Regions from separate parts of the Homo sapiens genome. Here region 1 is reported to be linked to region 2. The links are microRNA targets in miRTarBase. Many come from high-throughput screens and were not tested one by one. Region 2 holds a microRNA gene; the other region holds the end of a gene's coding sequence.
Evidence for each region. The annotated mature microRNA hsa-miR-583 reads CAAAGAGGAAGGUCCCAUUAC and lies in region 2 at 2,574-2,594, opposite strand. An mRNA with a match to its seed (bases 2 to 7 or 8) in the 3' UTR can be bound and repressed. Matches are read on the target gene's strand: a 7mer-m8 pairs with bases 2 to 8, a 7mer-A1 pairs with bases 2 to 7 and ends in A, and an 8mer does both.

Region 1: the mRNA of CMTM4 is a reported target of hsa-miR-583. Seed matches in the 3' UTR shown: 7mer-m8 at 1,972-1,978, 7mer-m8 at 3,151-3,157, 7mer-A1 at 6,450-6,456, 7mer-A1 at 7,853-7,859 and 7mer-m8 at 7,914-7,920.

The regions. Positions count from the first base shown.
Region 1 is chr16:66,615,927-66,623,924 of GRCh38, reverse strand. It overlaps CMTM4 (CKLF like MARVEL transmembrane domain containing 4), which reads left to right. Exons shown (of 4, transcript NM_181521.3): 3 at 423-521; 4 at 1,703-7,998. The coding sequence ends at 1,867. Among named protein-coding and RNA genes, the nearest start is that of CMTM3, 15 kb to the right of the region's middle. RefSeq lists an enhancer at 3,542-4,043.
Region 2 is chr5:96,073,749-96,081,746 of GRCh38, reverse strand. MIR583 (microRNA 583) reads right to left here and starts at 2,609; the gene lies at 2,535-2,609. The region is part of intron 1 of LOC101929710 (a long non-coding RNA gene); the gene reads right to left. It also overlaps a transcript of CAST not described here.

The sequences.
Region 1 (7,998 bases), not on the chromosome of region 2:
AAAGTTTGTTTTGAATGTCACATGTGAGTGCAGGGAATGCTGGAGGGATTTCACCAGTTTTAGTACATTTGGATCCTTGGGGAGCTTTGTCCATAGCAAGATGATTTGAGTGTGGTTTTTAAAAGATGGCACCAGACCTCTAAATGGTAATTAGTGTTAGCAATTTTGGTTACTATTTCTTCAGAAAGGGTAGTGGGGTTGGTGAAAATGTAGATTTTGTGGTGGTGATTTATCAAGTAGTGTCATAAACTGTTAACTTTGCCTTCTTTTGTGTGACCAGTAACCCTGTGACATTGAGACTGAAATATGGAGCCACCAGGGAGGTTGGGTATCGTGGGTCTTATTTTGAAAGTTCTCCAGTTGCTTTTAGAGCAAAGATGGAATGGTTCTTTTCACTTGGTTTATTTTGTCTCTCCCTTTAGGATTTGGTCAACACTGGACTCAGCGCTTTCCTTTTCTTTATTGCTTCAATCGTACTGGCTGCTTTAAACCATAGAGCCGGAGCAGAAATTGCTGCCGTGGTAAGCAAACTCAAATGGTTAAAGCAAGCTGATCTGGGGACCTCCTGTGACCTGCTCGCCTGTCCCTGGCATGTGTCCTGCTCCCCCTCCTGTGGCTTTTCTTTGCTAAAGATGATGTTACTGGGCCAGTGGGGGTCCCAGTCCCTTCAGTGCTGTGGTTCTCAAAGTATGGGCCCCAGAACAGCAGCCTTGGCATCTGTTAGACATCCTTAGGCTCCGCTCCAGAGCTACTGAGTCAGAAATGTATTTGAAGTAACCCTCTGGATGATACAGATGTGCTCTCAAGTTCAAGAACCCCTGCTTTGGTTCGTTTCCAACACAGTCCTTGATGTCTAAGAGCCTTATCTGCCTGGGGAAGGGAGGGTTCTTGAATGCAGTCATGACACCATTTAGCAGTCACATGACATTTCAAGGTGGAAATGCCACGGCAGGTGGGGACCAGATAATGTAGGACTTCCCCTCTCCATGCCCTGCATTTCTGTATTGTTCTCAGTTTATGAGGAACAGTTATCCTTTTTGTAATGGGGGGATTAAAAGGTTTATAAATGATTAAACGAACTGCTCTCCCAGGTGCCACTCAGGCGATTTGTAAGTCTTAATAATTAAAACTCTGTGCTTCTTACTCTGGAGCTGCTTACTTGGAGCTGCCCCATGAGAGGCAGGTGTGGGATGGGGGCTGTGATGTGGAACATTGGCCCTGTGGCTTGATTTGGGACCCACATGCGAAACCCTGATTTTCTGTCTATGTTACATTTTGTCTGCACTGTATTTTCTCATCTGGGACCAGAGGCCCTGAAGTTGCAGTAAAAGAGGTACTTTTGTGATTTATTTTTTTATACGTCCAAAATACTTCAAAAGAAACCTTAGGCTGTCTTTAGGTCAGGCAAGATTTTCTGTGTGTCACATGACTAGAGACTCAGCTGTGGTGTGACAGCCACACATCCAGCAGGGCTGGGCACAGGCTTCCCTTTGACTCTGAGCCACCCCGTCATATGTATTTGAAACAAGACTTTAGATCAAATGGGGCTGCTGAGAGGGGGAAGAGATCAAGGAATGAAGGCACAGGGTTGTAATGATCAGCTGGCAGAGCAGGAAGGGGCTGCATGTGGCTTGGGTCACCACAGAAGCCTTGAGGGGCCAGGCCACGTGCCCGAGGACTAACTGTGCTGGTGTGTTTTTAGATATTTGGCTTCTTGGCGACTGCGGCATATGCAGTGAACACATTCCTGGCAGTGCAGAAATGGAGAGTCAGCGTCCGCCAGCAGAGCACCAATGACTACATCCGAGCCCGCACGGAGTCCAGGGATGTGGACAGTCGCCCTGAGATCCAGCGCCTGGACACGTGAGGACCTGCCTGGATCCTCCTCCCTCCCGTCCTCGTGCCTGTCTCTCAGTCAAGTTTTCTTTCCCTTGTCCTGTCAGATTTCCATGTGATTCAGTTGAATTTTGTCCTCTTTGGTAAAAGTTCATTTTGGGAAAGGGTTTCCCGAGTGGCCCAGTGGGCGGGTCCGCGGTGGAGTTGGGAGGCCCACGTTCCTCAGCGTTTGGGGCTGTGGAGCAGCCGGCGTCACTGCCCAGGTCCACTTGAGGTCTTACCTGCCCTGAAGCACAGGCTTCCTTTGACTCTGAGCCACCTTGTCGTGTGTATTTGTAACAAGACTTTGGATTAAATGGGGCTGCTAAGAGGGGGGAAATATGAAGGAATGAAGGGACAGCATTGGAACGGTCAGTCGGCAGTGGTTCTCAGGCAGCCTTAGGCACCACCTGCTCCAAGTCAGTGTTGAGTCTGCGTGCTGGGATCCAGCCCACTCCTCATCTTCCATGCCAGGGCCCCCAGGCAGCCAGCACCAGCCCAAAGGCCACAGGGCTGGGGAAAGCTGATGTCCTGTTAGGATGGCTCCCAGGGACCTCTGACTCAAGGAAGGGTGACCTTTTGTTTCCTACTCTGCTGAGAAATCACTTGATTCTTCCTCAAATGAATCACCTTCCTGAACCCCAGATTCTTCTCCAGGAATATGGGGGCCATCTTGTTATGGGGACTATCTTGTTTTCCAGTTTCCTGCCTACCCTAAATACTTTGAGGCTGAATTGCAGATTTTCAGTCATTTTACCTTCTCAGGTAAAAGCCATGAAAGAAACAAGCCTACTCCACCAGCCAAAGCACTTGCCCATTTGCTGGCTTCATGAACCGCAGGTGGGAGGTGTTTGTGTTAAAAAACAGCATGCACACGCGTGCGCGCACACATGCACACACACACCCCTCTATTTTAGGGATGTGTGCTAATTTTCTAAATGCCTGCAAAGAGTTCTAAAATGATTCTGAGCAGATTCGTCTAGGATTTGAAAATACTTGAATTTGCACCAGAACACACCCTTCCACCCATGTTTCAGAAGGCACTAATTGTCGCTTTGGGCGCCTCAGTGTCATAACTGTAGACATCATTCTTGGGAGTTGTTGGGGGGAAAAATCCTAGCTACTTAAGGTTTCTGATTGATTCTTGATAAAGTGAAGATTATTGTGTGTGGTGAATGAGTTCAGTGAGTCCCCATGATGCAGTAGTTTTTTTAAAAAATTAGAGAGTAATTATATCTTTTATGGAAAAAAGTTGTTTTAGTTTGTCAGGTTTTCCCTCTTTGAACTGTTTTTAATGTTTACAAACCTCACTTTAGCTCTAACATTTTGTGTTTAGCCCTCACCAAAAAGCACTTACTGTGGCAGGAAGATTTTGCAGTAACATGGAGAAATCCCCAAGATCAAGTGCTGACAAATGTTGACAGCTTTAGCAGCGTACTGTGTAATAAATAACTCCGAGGGGGCGGCGGGGGGTCTGTGCAAGAAAGCGTCACCTTATGGACATGTGGCGTCTCATTCCCCAGAAAAGGACAGCATCTGAGCTCACAGTGTTGATCAGGCAACACTGCTGGGCTGGGGGTCGGAGTTGGGGTTAGCTTCCTGCACCAACACCTTCAGTACGATCTGAGTTGGGAGCAGTGTCCCAGGCTATGTGGCTGAGCACCACGTCTGCCTCAGGGGCTGACCCTGCTAGCCTGTTAACAACTCGTCTCCCCTCTGCTCCCACAGAGAGGGCAGCCAGGCCAGCTCACAGCTGGGTGTGCTGCCTGTCAGGTCTGTTGAGTGTGTTTGCAAAGTCAAAATTGGGCTTATCTCTCTTTGAGAGTTCCTTTTAAAATAGGGCCACAAAGGCTCAGCCTTGCATTAAATGGGGCCCACTTGGAAGGACCATCCTGAGCTTTATCAGAAATCTCCTGCTGGGAATCATGTTACTTGGCCCCCAAAAAAGGCCATCTTTGAAGTGAGATTGAAAACAAGAACACCATTCAGGTGGGCTTGTTGCCCAAGTTTTCCCAGCTCACTTCAGTAAAACCACTTGATCATCTGGTGAAAGAGGGGGGCAGGTGGTTGGCCTCCTGAGGATATGTTGTCAGCTGCAAGAAATAGTTCTGAAGTCACTGAAACTAAATGCAGATGAATGACCAAAAAGGATGACACGCCAGAGAGTGACTTAGGAGTTAATTTGCATCTTCGTGATAGACTCTTCAGAATTATTTATGTCCCTGTAACTATTTAATATCCTTTGTGCCGTGAGGCTCCTCGGTGGTTTTGTAAATGTTCTCCTTGTATTTAATTAACTCCCACTAGAACCGGAAGTGGTGCTATGGACGCTTTCTAGTTGATGTAATGTGTGGTTGCACATGTCATCATGTATAGACCACGTGGTGACGAAAGTTCTGGAGGGAATAGGGTTATCCAAGGTGAATATGAAGACGCCTATATTTTTCTTATATTGCCTCTATATGCAAACAGAAGACAATCGATATCTGGGGGCCTTAAAATGACCTCTTGGCAAATTGAAGGAAGCGTTTTTGCGTTTAATAGTTTCAATAGGGACCAATATCAGTTTGGTTTGGGGCATTTGAAGGCTGAGCGACCTTAGTTTTTCTCAGTGTTCTGGTGGGACGATATTGGTTTTCACATTTAAAGCAAAACTTGAAGAAACTGCAGTTGCTGTGTGCATTTGGGTTTTTTCCTGGACACTGTACAGCTGAAACCCTCAAGCATTTGGTGGAACCTCTGGTGGTTTTAGATGGATGCAAACACTGATGTCCTCAGAGAAAGTTTATTTTGGCACTGATTGGGTGGATTTGGTATTTTTTCCCTCTGATTCTCTTTGATATCCTTCTTTCACACTGCTGAAGGCATGGGAGGGAAATATGTTTTCCCTGCCTTAAAGAGGGATTACAGTCATGAAAGGCTGGAGATACTTGTTGGCCCCACATAAAGCTGGGAAGAACAGATGCAGTTTCAGATTAAAATCTCGTCAGAGAAGTTTGATTTGAAGTAAACAGCCATCCGAGGGAGGTGACTTTTGTCTACAGAAAAAGCAAGAATGTGGCAGCCTGCACAGCCCCAATACACATCTTCCTTGGCAATGTGAGCTGAAGCCAGCATGGGCAAGTCCGGCCCAGCTCTGAGCGCTTGGCCCTGGGAAGCCAGCGGCACCCCCAGCCCTTCGGGCCCTGTTACTGTCCCCTGGCAGGAAGGCTCACGCCTGTGGGCAGCCAGGGAATGTGTCTGACCTCCACCCTATGTCGGGTGCTTCTGGGACAGCTTCGTGACTCAGTTGAAAACATTCTGACTCTCTTCAAGTTTGCAGTTACATCTGTGGTTCTTGGAAGCTGTCCTAGTGAGTCAGCCTTGGGTTAAGCCTGAGGAGACCAAGCTCCAACACCTTTGTGCACTCATGTACGTGAATTCTTGCTTGCAGTGAATGAGACCTGAACAACCCTAGTGGGTGCCATGTCCTGCGTGTGGCCCAGGCGTACCTTTTCTTGTAGATTCACATGAGAAACCCGTCACCTATCCATGTGCTCTGAGAGGTGGACTGAGGTCTAATCCCTTTCTGTGCCAGATTTTCTGTGGGTTGGTCTTAGCACCTAGGAGATGAATAGAGCATGGAGACACCTGAACAATTTAGTGATTCTGCAAGGCAGTGATGATTTAAGGGTTCCTATTGTCTCATCTGTGTTCAAAACAAAACAGTCATGAAGTCTTTGTGCCACTGCCTGACTGTCATCTTCTCCAGATCTTGTTTACAGAGTAATAATGACGTTAAACAGGTATCAGAAAGGGGAAAAAGTTTCTAGGCCAAGAGCTGCTGGTGGATTCTCTTGAGCAGAATAACAAGTTGCTTCCTGCTCCAGGGACTGCCATTAGCTTGTGAAGTCTCTAGGTGCCTTGTTATTTCCTAGTGAAGTTGCAGAATCCAGGGTTTTTTCCAGGTTTGTCTTATTTTATCAGCACCCACGTCCAGGCCCAACAGCTTGGTAGGCTGGTGAGGTCCACACACGGCCAGGTCTGGGAGATAAGGGAGGAAGCAGTGGCCTGGAACACCCCACCTGTCTGCTATCAGCACTAGACAGCTCAGGCTGTCTTGGAAACGTGTACTTTGTTAACTGCCTTCCTGTCCTCTTGTCTTTGAAAGCTGTCTCGCGTTCCACAGTCAGCTTGAGGGCAAGAGTGGGATGCTGGGGACAGGTCTTTCCCGTCCTGTGGGTGAGCTCCTGGCATCTGGCTCAGGAACATGTGGGTCCAGCAGGTGACTCTGAAGCTGGCTTGGCTGCCATCTCAGACAGGACGCAGGCCTGACACCCTCAGCTTTTAGCTTTGTAAACTTCCCTGGCGCTTTGTAGAATCTTGTGTTTCTTCTCTTCTCAGCAGATATCATTCAAGTCACAAGAACTGTCTGGTTGAGAAAGTAATTTAAAATATTTGACCTTTTATGTTTCTTTTATTTAGAAACTGTGAGAGAAAATACCGTCAATATCTGTTAGGTCTAGAAAAATTTTCTTCCGAAAGTGAATGTTCTGTTTAATTCTTCTTCATGCAAGTGAGTGGCATTTTGTACACTCTTTAGCTTGAAGCGGAGTGGGTCCTATTGTATTTTCCCTTCTTTTGTCTGGAATATATTCTTTTTCCATTTGGATACAGTTTTTCAACCTTTGGGATTTTTTTTTCCTTTCTAGTTTTTCCTACTCCACAAACGTAACAGTAAGGAAAAAATCACCCACAAACCTGCTGAGTTTGAATCACTGGCAACTTGCCTAGAAAAGTTCAGATGATGGGTCCTTGAACTGTGTATCTATTTCATAGGGTAAGTTTGTTGTCTATGTTTGTTTTTTTATGCTGAGGCTTTAATTCAGGTGACTTGCTATCTAGACACCTGGGGTGGCGTGTTTTCTTTGGGATGCATAATACACAAAGGCCAGGGAGCCTTTGGCTTGGACCCCCAGGGAGCTATTGAAACTTTTAAAGTTTGAGTTTAGGAGTAAGAACATATCTCAGACCACCTTAGTCAGCTTTGCTGATGGGATTTAGGGCCAGGTCAGAGTTTCTTTTCATAACTGCCTGAAAAGAGAGATGGTGTGAAACAAGATTCTGATAATGGTTTGTGTGAGATTTGATCATAGTCTAAAACTATCACGTCTGAGTTGCCTTAGGATGACAGTGCTGACACCCAGTAGGAAGTATCCCATTTTTATCAGGAAAGTCAGTCACGCGTAGGGATGGTGAGGAGACGCGTAGGGATGGTGAGGAGGGGAGAGGAGGGAGACCTGCTGGTGCCCTTGCACCAGGGTGAGGCCTGACTCACGCTGCTTCCCCCCACAGGCCCTGCTTTGCTTGCCTGCTTTTTCCAGAATCGATTTTGCAAGCTTCAAGATTCTGTTCCCCTCTTCGCAGAAGTGAGGAAGGCAAATACTCAGGGTTTGAAGGGAGACCTGGCCGGCCTGAGGGCTGGCAGATGTGAGGGCAGGACACCTGGGATGGACTCGTAGGCTGACCCAGGCCCAAAGGGGGCTGCCTGTTCCCAACTCTTTCACTCTGTAACCCATTTTAAAATGAGTTTTTGAATCTTGCCTCAAATTGACCTACTTGGATAAAATCAGTGCTTTTCCTAACTTGATTTTGTTTGACGTGGTTCCCTCTAAGAGAATGGTAGGAATTGAAACTATTTGTATATGTTGAAATTTGTAGGGGTTCAGGAACCCATGGCAGAAACACTAAACTATTTATTTACAAGTATGACTATTTTTTTTTCAAAGTAGGCAATTCTTTGTATATTTTAAGGCAAATAATCACTTCACCTCTGGTGCCTTCCATGCGTCGCATAAGCACTCTTGTCAATCATGGAATTGGAAAAAAAGATGTACATTTAGTTAAACAAGATAACACTATTTTTGTAGCATGATTTTAGATTGTGTCCTTTTAATATTGTTTTCAACAATGGTAGTTTTGAGGTTTTGGCCATTTTCTCTTTACACTTCGTATGTATTTTAAAGAAGAAAAAAAACAAAAAAAATTCCCTGGCTATTCCTCTTTCCTCTCTGCTGCTGCTTCTCCTGCATCTTGTTCCTGCTTATTTAAATAGTCTGAGAGTAAGAGTATATTTCTGTGAAA
Region 2 (7,998 bases):
AAAGAGTTCCATTTCTCCAGGCTGTAAAGACTTCATCTGCTGATCTGGGATCCCTCTATCTCTCTGAAGCAGGCTGGGAGTGGGTGAGCATCTGTTTATTTGCTGAGTTGTCCTCCATCTGGTCTTCAGTAGTCAGTCTAGGCAAGTTACTGCTGATTCTGTTCATGTTCCCTGAACAGAATGGCCCAGCTCTCTATTAACAAACTCCCTTGCCCCTTTAAGGTACATGGGATCATTCTGTTCTCTCACACCACACTGGGCCTCAGGAAACTCAGCAAGATTATCCTCTTCCCTTTCCCACTTCCGTGCTCCTCCTGACCACAAGAATATCGTTCTCTGATCCAATGCCATGCTGAGCTCTATGGGACTTCACAAGTTCCCTCAGGTCTCTCCACCTGGATGCCCTGTGCAGCCATTTCTACTCTGGGCTCTTACCTCCCTGGGCCCTACACAGGAAAGAGAACCTGGATTCCCTCTGTGTTCAGATTTCACATACCTCTTGGCAAACTCTGTCACTCTCCTTCTCCCTGTGCTGAGCTAGGGGAAAGGACAAGGCAGAGAGTCTCACTCCTTTGTCAGGAATCCACAGTGTCAACTCAACCTTTGCTTACTTCTGTCTGAAGAACTTTCTGTCCTCTGGAGCATGGAAGCTTGGGGGTGATTTATCCCAGTCATCATTTTATCTAGGCACATAGGCCTTTTGATTCCTTATAGGACCCAGACTTTTGAAACTTACAATCCAAGAAAAGAAAGTGCCATCTCTTCTTTGTGCATTGAAAATACAATACCAAAGCTGATAACATATAAAAGTTATCAGTTAAGGCTTCACACTCTTATCCTACCACATAACACAGGGGCTAAGAGAGCTCAAAGGGAAATTGTGCCTAGCTCAGCTGGGGCACTTGGGGAAGGTTTTAAAGAGAGGGCCCAGCCAGAGTTGAGTCTCCTAGGGTGAATCAGAGCTCAGCTCAACACTCAGACAAGGGGGAAGGTCATTCCACACACAGGGAACAACATGTGCAAAGTCACAGTTAGATGAGTCAGGATTTAAACTTATCTCCCACAATTGTCTAAGCCACATAAATCAGGTCTCATTTTGAGAATGGAATAAGCACAGACATAATTGTTGGAACTGGAAGATACTTTAGGGATCATCTAATCTAATCCCTGCATGTAACAGATAAGGACACTGAGGTCCAAAATGATGAACTTTAATCTAATGTTCAAAAACAAATTAAGACTAAATTCAGACTTTCACTTATACCTATGGTCAGGAACTTTACTCTCAATTTGCCCTGCCAAACTATCTCCTTCAAGCCAAAATGAGCATGAATTATATCAGTATTTGTAATAAGCTTAGTAGTGAGATTTTGTCAAGTTTCAAGAAGAAAAACAGTTATCATCCAATGATAGCATTAATATTTTTAAAAGAGAAAGTCCTGTTTTCCAGGAAAGTATCCTAGTGAGATAATTTATGTAGAATGTATTATATGTGGATATCAGCATGATGTACTTCTGTTAGGTCCTTTAATGCCCATAACACCTCTTCAAGGTATATACTATTATTTATACCCATTTTGCAGATAAGAAAACTGAGGTACAGAAAGTTGAGTAACTTGTCCTAGGTTATATGGCTAATAAGTCGTAGGCCAGTAGCAGGCAGTCAAACCCATAATAATTATGCTTTTAACCACTACAAGATCATATTTCTCTTCATGCTGTTATTCAACCTATAGATATACTACAAATATACTTACAAAACCACACAAATGCACGAATATGTATATATAAGGCTTTTCAGGCAGTGGGGTTTGCTTTTTAAAAGACTAGAAATAACCTAAATACCTATTATTAGAGGACTACTTTAATAAATTAAGGCATATCCTCATCATAGGGCCATTTAAAAGAATAGGATAAAGCTATTTGTGCTGATATAGAAAAATTTCTAAGAAACAAAACATGGTTAAGTTAAAAATAATAATAACCAAGATGTATATAGTATGTTCCTAATTGATTCTTAAAGGTTGCTATATAAACAATATTGAAGTTTGATTACGTAGAGAATGTTTGTGGAAGGGTGCTAGCAAGTAATTAGTAGTGGTTGCCTCTGAAGGGGAGACAGAGAGAACTAGGGATGTGAAATGAGAAGGAAATTCATTTTTCATTGTATATCTTTTTTGTAATTTACACTTTTTACCATATACAAATAAGAGTTATTCAGACTTTACAAACTACATTTTTTAAATTGTCAACTAATGCAATTTTTTATCCCAAGATATCTCTTCAACCTTAAGAATTAGTAAAAAACATACTTAAAAGTGGTTTCAAACACCCAAGTTATCATGTTTGTATTTACCTATAAGAGAGCTCTTTAAAAAGACTAGCCTTCCTAACCCTTGCCAGGATATTGAATCATTCCTGACTCACAAGAGAAAATAGCCAAATGAGTAACAAGCCTGATGCCATTTGGTAAGTGGGAGCTCAGGACAAAGAGTGTGGGTAGGGAGTGAAATGAAGGGGGCCCAGGGGAAAGTACCAAAGAGGTAGGTCCCAGTACTGCTAAGATCCCTGCAGTAATGGGACCTTCCTCTTTGGTTAATGTGTGAGTTGTAAGATGTAAAGAACAGCCTTCCTATCATTTAAATAGGTTTTTTTTTAACTTTAAGTGCATGGGTACATATACAGGTTTGTTACATAGGTAAACTTGTATCATGGGGTTTTGTTGTACAGATTATTTCATCACCCAGGTATTAAGTCTAGAACCCATTAATTATACTTCCTGATCCTCTCCTGCCTCCCACCCAGCACCCTCCAAAAGGCCCCAGTATGTGTTGTTTCCCTCTATGTGTCCCTATGTTCTCATCATTCAGCTCCCACTTATAAGTGAGAACATGCAATACTTGGTTTTCTGTTCCTGTGTTAGTTTGTTAAGGATAATGGTTTCCAGCTCCATCCATGTCACTGTGAAATACATTCTTAAATCTCAACACATACCACATGCCATCATCAATACCCACAAGACAAATTATGCTTAGTGATTGATTTAACTTGACATTAAGTGCTCTAACTACTTTCTTTCCACTTGTTCTTTCTTGGTTTGTTTCATTGTGTTCTATACCTATTAATTCAATTTTTAAAAGCTTGATCAAGATGGTGAAACCCCATCTCTACTAAAATATGAAAAAATTAGCCGGGCGTGGTGGCACATTCCTGTAATCCCAGCTACTTGGGAGGCTGAGTCAGGAGAATTGCTTGAACCTGGGAGGCGGAGGTTGCAGTGAGCTGAGATTGCACCATTGCACTCCAGGCTGGGCAACAAAAGCAAAACTCCGTCTAAAAAAAAAAAAAGCTTGATCAGATGTTCATGAAAATTTACCCCTGTCTTTAAGAATCACCAAGTACCCCTTAATTAGGAGGCTGTGTACTTGGGTAGACTGAAGTGGCCTGAGGGAGAAGGGGAGTGTTAAGAACTAAATGTTTGTGTCTCTCCCAAAATTCATATGTTGAAACCCCAATGTCATGGTGTCTAGAGATGGGGCCTCTGGAAGGTATTTAGGTTTAGATAAGGACATGAGGGTCGGGCTGTCACGATGGAATTAGTACCTTTATCATAAGAGACAAGAGAGCTTGTGCTCTCTCTCCCTCTGCCATGTGAGGGCACAGCAAGAAGCAGGATAATTTCTTTATTATACCAATTTAATAGTTACATCTGCTAAATGTAAAATGTAGTGAGATGGTTTCAGATAAATCTCACCTAAGAAAAAAATGTTCTAATGTTCCTGGTCTGAAGATTACTATAGCATAGGTAATCCAGCTATCCAGTAGTCAAAGTGTACTGTTCCTTACAGAAATAGTAAAACAGATTAAACAAGTTAGTTCATCTTATGTTGAGGCTGGATAATTTATAAAGAAAAGGGGTTTATTTGGCTTATGGTTCTGCAGGCTGTACAGGAAGCATGGCACCAGCATCTGCTTGTGGTGAGGGCATCAAGCTGCTTCCACTCATGGTAGAAGGAGAAGGGGAGCCAGTGTGTGCAGTATCACATGGCAAGAAAGGAAGCAGGAAAGGGAGAAGGAAGGTGTCAGACCCTTTAACAACCAGTTATTTCAGGAACTAATAGAGGGAGAACTTACAAACTCCCTCCCCTCATCAGGAAGGGCATTAATCTATCCATGAGGGATCTGGCCCCATGACCTAAGCAGCCCCACAATTTCAACATGAAGTTTGGGTGGATCAAATATCCAGACGATACCACAGAATTCACATGCAAATAAATACAACTAGCAAAAACAATAAAATCCACAAAGAAAAATGTGTATCTGCCTAATAATCAAAGAAATGCAAATTAAAGCAAATAAATGATAATACCAAATATACATAAAATTGCAGAGAAAGTTATACAGTCATGCTATATACACTTTAAAAAGTATTTGTCAATAAATAGCAAGAACCCTAAAGATGTTCGTAATCTTAACCATTATAACATTTCTGAGAATTTATTCATGAAAAAGTAATTCAACTGAATAATAAAATAAAAAGGTATATATGTTAAGATGTCAATATAATGTTATTTATGATATACATTTACATTTCTAAAATATACTTTAATAAAGTTGAAGGCTAAGTTGCCAGTAGCAGTCAGCAAATTAGGATAGATACTATGAAATATTAATCAGTCATTTAAAGAAGCAATTGTTAATAAGACTAAAAACATGGATAATTTTAATGTCAAGACAGAATGTTACATAAAAAAGCATAATATAAAATATTTTTATTATAAATATTATAAAATCTATATGCATGAAAAGAATTAGAAACTATTATGCAAAAATATATATCATATTGGGAAGATACAATTACTAATTAACTTTTAAATGTTTGCTTACATTATTATTGATATTTATTAAAAATAATGGGAATTTAGGACTCAAAGCTTTGTAAATATAATCTAAATACAAGGAGAAAAAAATGAACAACTTCACAAAATACAACCAATTTCAATCATTGAGCTTGATGGTTATTACTTTCCTTTTGTTTGTTTCCAAAAATTCATTGAATATTCTTATGACACAAATTCTTATGACGTGGCAAATGCTTTCAACTACAGAGACTGACTTCCTAAAACCCTGCCCTAAATGCTATAGCTACTAATTACTCAACTCCAGCAGCCCATTATGGTAAGGATGGCTCCAAAGTTGTTTTCCTCACTAAAATATTTGCTTTAAGCATTGTTTTTTATTTACACGCAGAAGGATTTGGGAGTCCAGGCCCAGAACCCGAGCCCCTTAGGGTTATGAAGAAGTACCTGTTAGTTCAGAAGGAAGATTATAAATTCCAACTGTTCTACTCCTTTTCGATATTTGCTTTTGTTGCCTAGAGGAAAGAAGAGGAATGTGTGTTTTTACTAAATATTTATGACTTTTCATCATATGTTGTTTAGAGCAATATGTTTAGAGTAGGGGTACTAAAAAACACTGAAGATAGACTTCCTTGGTTTTCAAATAGAATGCAGATAATCCCACAAAATGTTATTTGACCTTTTCCTTTACACTTTTATTCTCAGGCTCAGAGTCCAAAATTGTGGTTTCCAACCCTGAAAAAATAATCCTGGAACAGCTGGCCCATAGTGAAAACAGACCATCTTGACCTAGGGCGTGGTTGTCCAGGAAGAAAAAGAGTTATCAAGCAGACCCTGGACATTCACTCTAGAGCTGAAACATGAGTAGGATGCCCAGACAACGTTCACTTCTCCAAAGGCAAGAAGGCACAGACACCAATTAGAGAAATAAGATGAAGTTCCAGTTCCCCTTAGCCTGTTTTCAACACACATGCTTAAACCTAGTGGATTTAATGTGACAAACTCCCAAGGGAAAAAATTATTTTATTTAAATTTTGGTTTGCAAGGAAATGAGACAGTGTTTCATTCACCTTAAAGGGATCATTTAACCCATGAAATAAACATGCAGGCACATGCCCAGGGAATAAAGCAATCTGGCAGTAAGCTTAAAAATGATCCTTCCAGAAAGCATTACCTCTCTGCCTCTTTCCTCAACATGGCTCCAAATCTTCCCCTTTTGCTCAATGAAACTCAATACTTTGAAAACTCTATTTCTTCTTTTCCATATTTTTCTTTAGTTTGGGATGAATGAGAATTGCTTTTATTCTCTTGGCTTGGTCAATTAATTGGCAGTTTGTGGAAGTAGAACGAAAGCTGAACTGGAAATCTGAAAAATTGGTTTCGAGTCCCTACTTAGTCACAAATTAATTACATAATTATTGATAAGCCAGTTACCACTCTAGACATCTATTTCCTCATCTGTAAGACAAGAGGGGTGATAACTAGGATACCATGAAAGCTCAAAATGTCCGTAACTAATAGGAAAACATGTAGATGATGCCAAGAAATCCTAGTGGGAGGGTGTATATCTTTAAAAGCAGATGAAAAGTATTATAGAGTTGGTAAAGCCTTACATTTCATCTTTACCTGGCTTGATTTCTCAGAACTGAATCATTTCATGGGATGCATTTCTCTGAGAACTAAGAGACATATAGATCAAAACAAAGCTCTAAAAATAAAAGACGAACATATATTAGAAGAGGTGACTGTGAGCCAATGAACAAATTCCGGCAGTAGGAATTTCAAACATTCTTTAAGACCAAAGCAAACAAGTAGGAAGGAAAAATTTAGATGCCCATTTCAGTGCAGCTTTTCTTCCTGGCAGACCACTTCCTGGGGATATGCTTTCATTTTGCCAGCTCTGCAGCCTAAAGAAAAAGGTATCCTGGGCCAATTAATTTTCTAAGTTTCCACTGGTTTATTCACCATGTAAGAGCTAAATCATGATTAAGTTAGGGATGAGGAATATGCAAACAAGATACAGAAGAGTAAGAATAAGTATAACCCATAAATAATTCCAAAATCACACACTATGAAATAATTTCAACCTCTTCCTTATTCACCAAACTTTTCCTGTCTAGAGATGATAGCAAGTCACTGAATTTGCTGGTTTAACCTTTGTCCTTCTTTCTTCCCCATCTCAGAGCCAAGGTACTACAGGGTAAAATATGCCTTCTCATTCGTCATTTTGCATAGTCAGATTCTTTTGTGGGAAGCAGTGGAAACTTCCCACCTGTACTAGCCAGCCCAGGCTGCCATCACAAAATACCAAAGACTGTGGTGCCTTAAACAACAGCAATTTATTTTCTCATCAGCTGGAAGTCTGAGATAAGGGTACAAGCATAATTGGTTTCTGGTGAGGGCTCTCTTCAGCTTGTAGTGGCCACCTTCTCACTGTGTCTTCACATGGCAAAGAGACAGCAACAAGTTCTCAGGTGTCTCTTCTTGTAAGGGCACTAATTCCATTATGAAGGTCCAACCCTCGTGACCTCATCTAAACCTAATTACCTCCCAAGGTCCCTAACTCCAAATACCACCACACTGGGGGTGTTAGAGCTTCAACATACGTATTTTGAAGGAACATTATCCAGGCCAAAACATCAGTTAACCTACAAAAGAAATGGGCTTGTTAAAGGATATTGAATCACTTACAGAAACAAAGAGAAGTCTAGAGAAGCAATAGGGTAGTTCAGGGAAGCGAGGTAGCAGGTGCCAACAGTTAGCTCTTCCATGGTGTTCACTAGAAAGAATTAGTTCCAGCAAATTTTTCAGTCTGTGAGTCTCTCGATATAAAATTCAAACAACTCACAGAGAATGTGATTAGCCTAGCTTGGGTCATGCAGCCGGGAACCTTGATGAATAGTTTCACAGCACACCATAGAATGGGGGCAGGGGTGGGAGGATGATGGGAGAATAATTCTCTAAAGAAGAGAGATATGAATACAAGGTGGCTAAAAATCAATAAATACCCAGTGTTCTCTATCAAGAAAGAACTTTAGAACAGGGGTCCTCAACCCCTAGGCAAAGAACCGGTAGTGGTCCATGAGCTGTTAGGAACAGGGTCGCACAGCAGAAGGTGGGCAGCAGGTGAATGAGCATT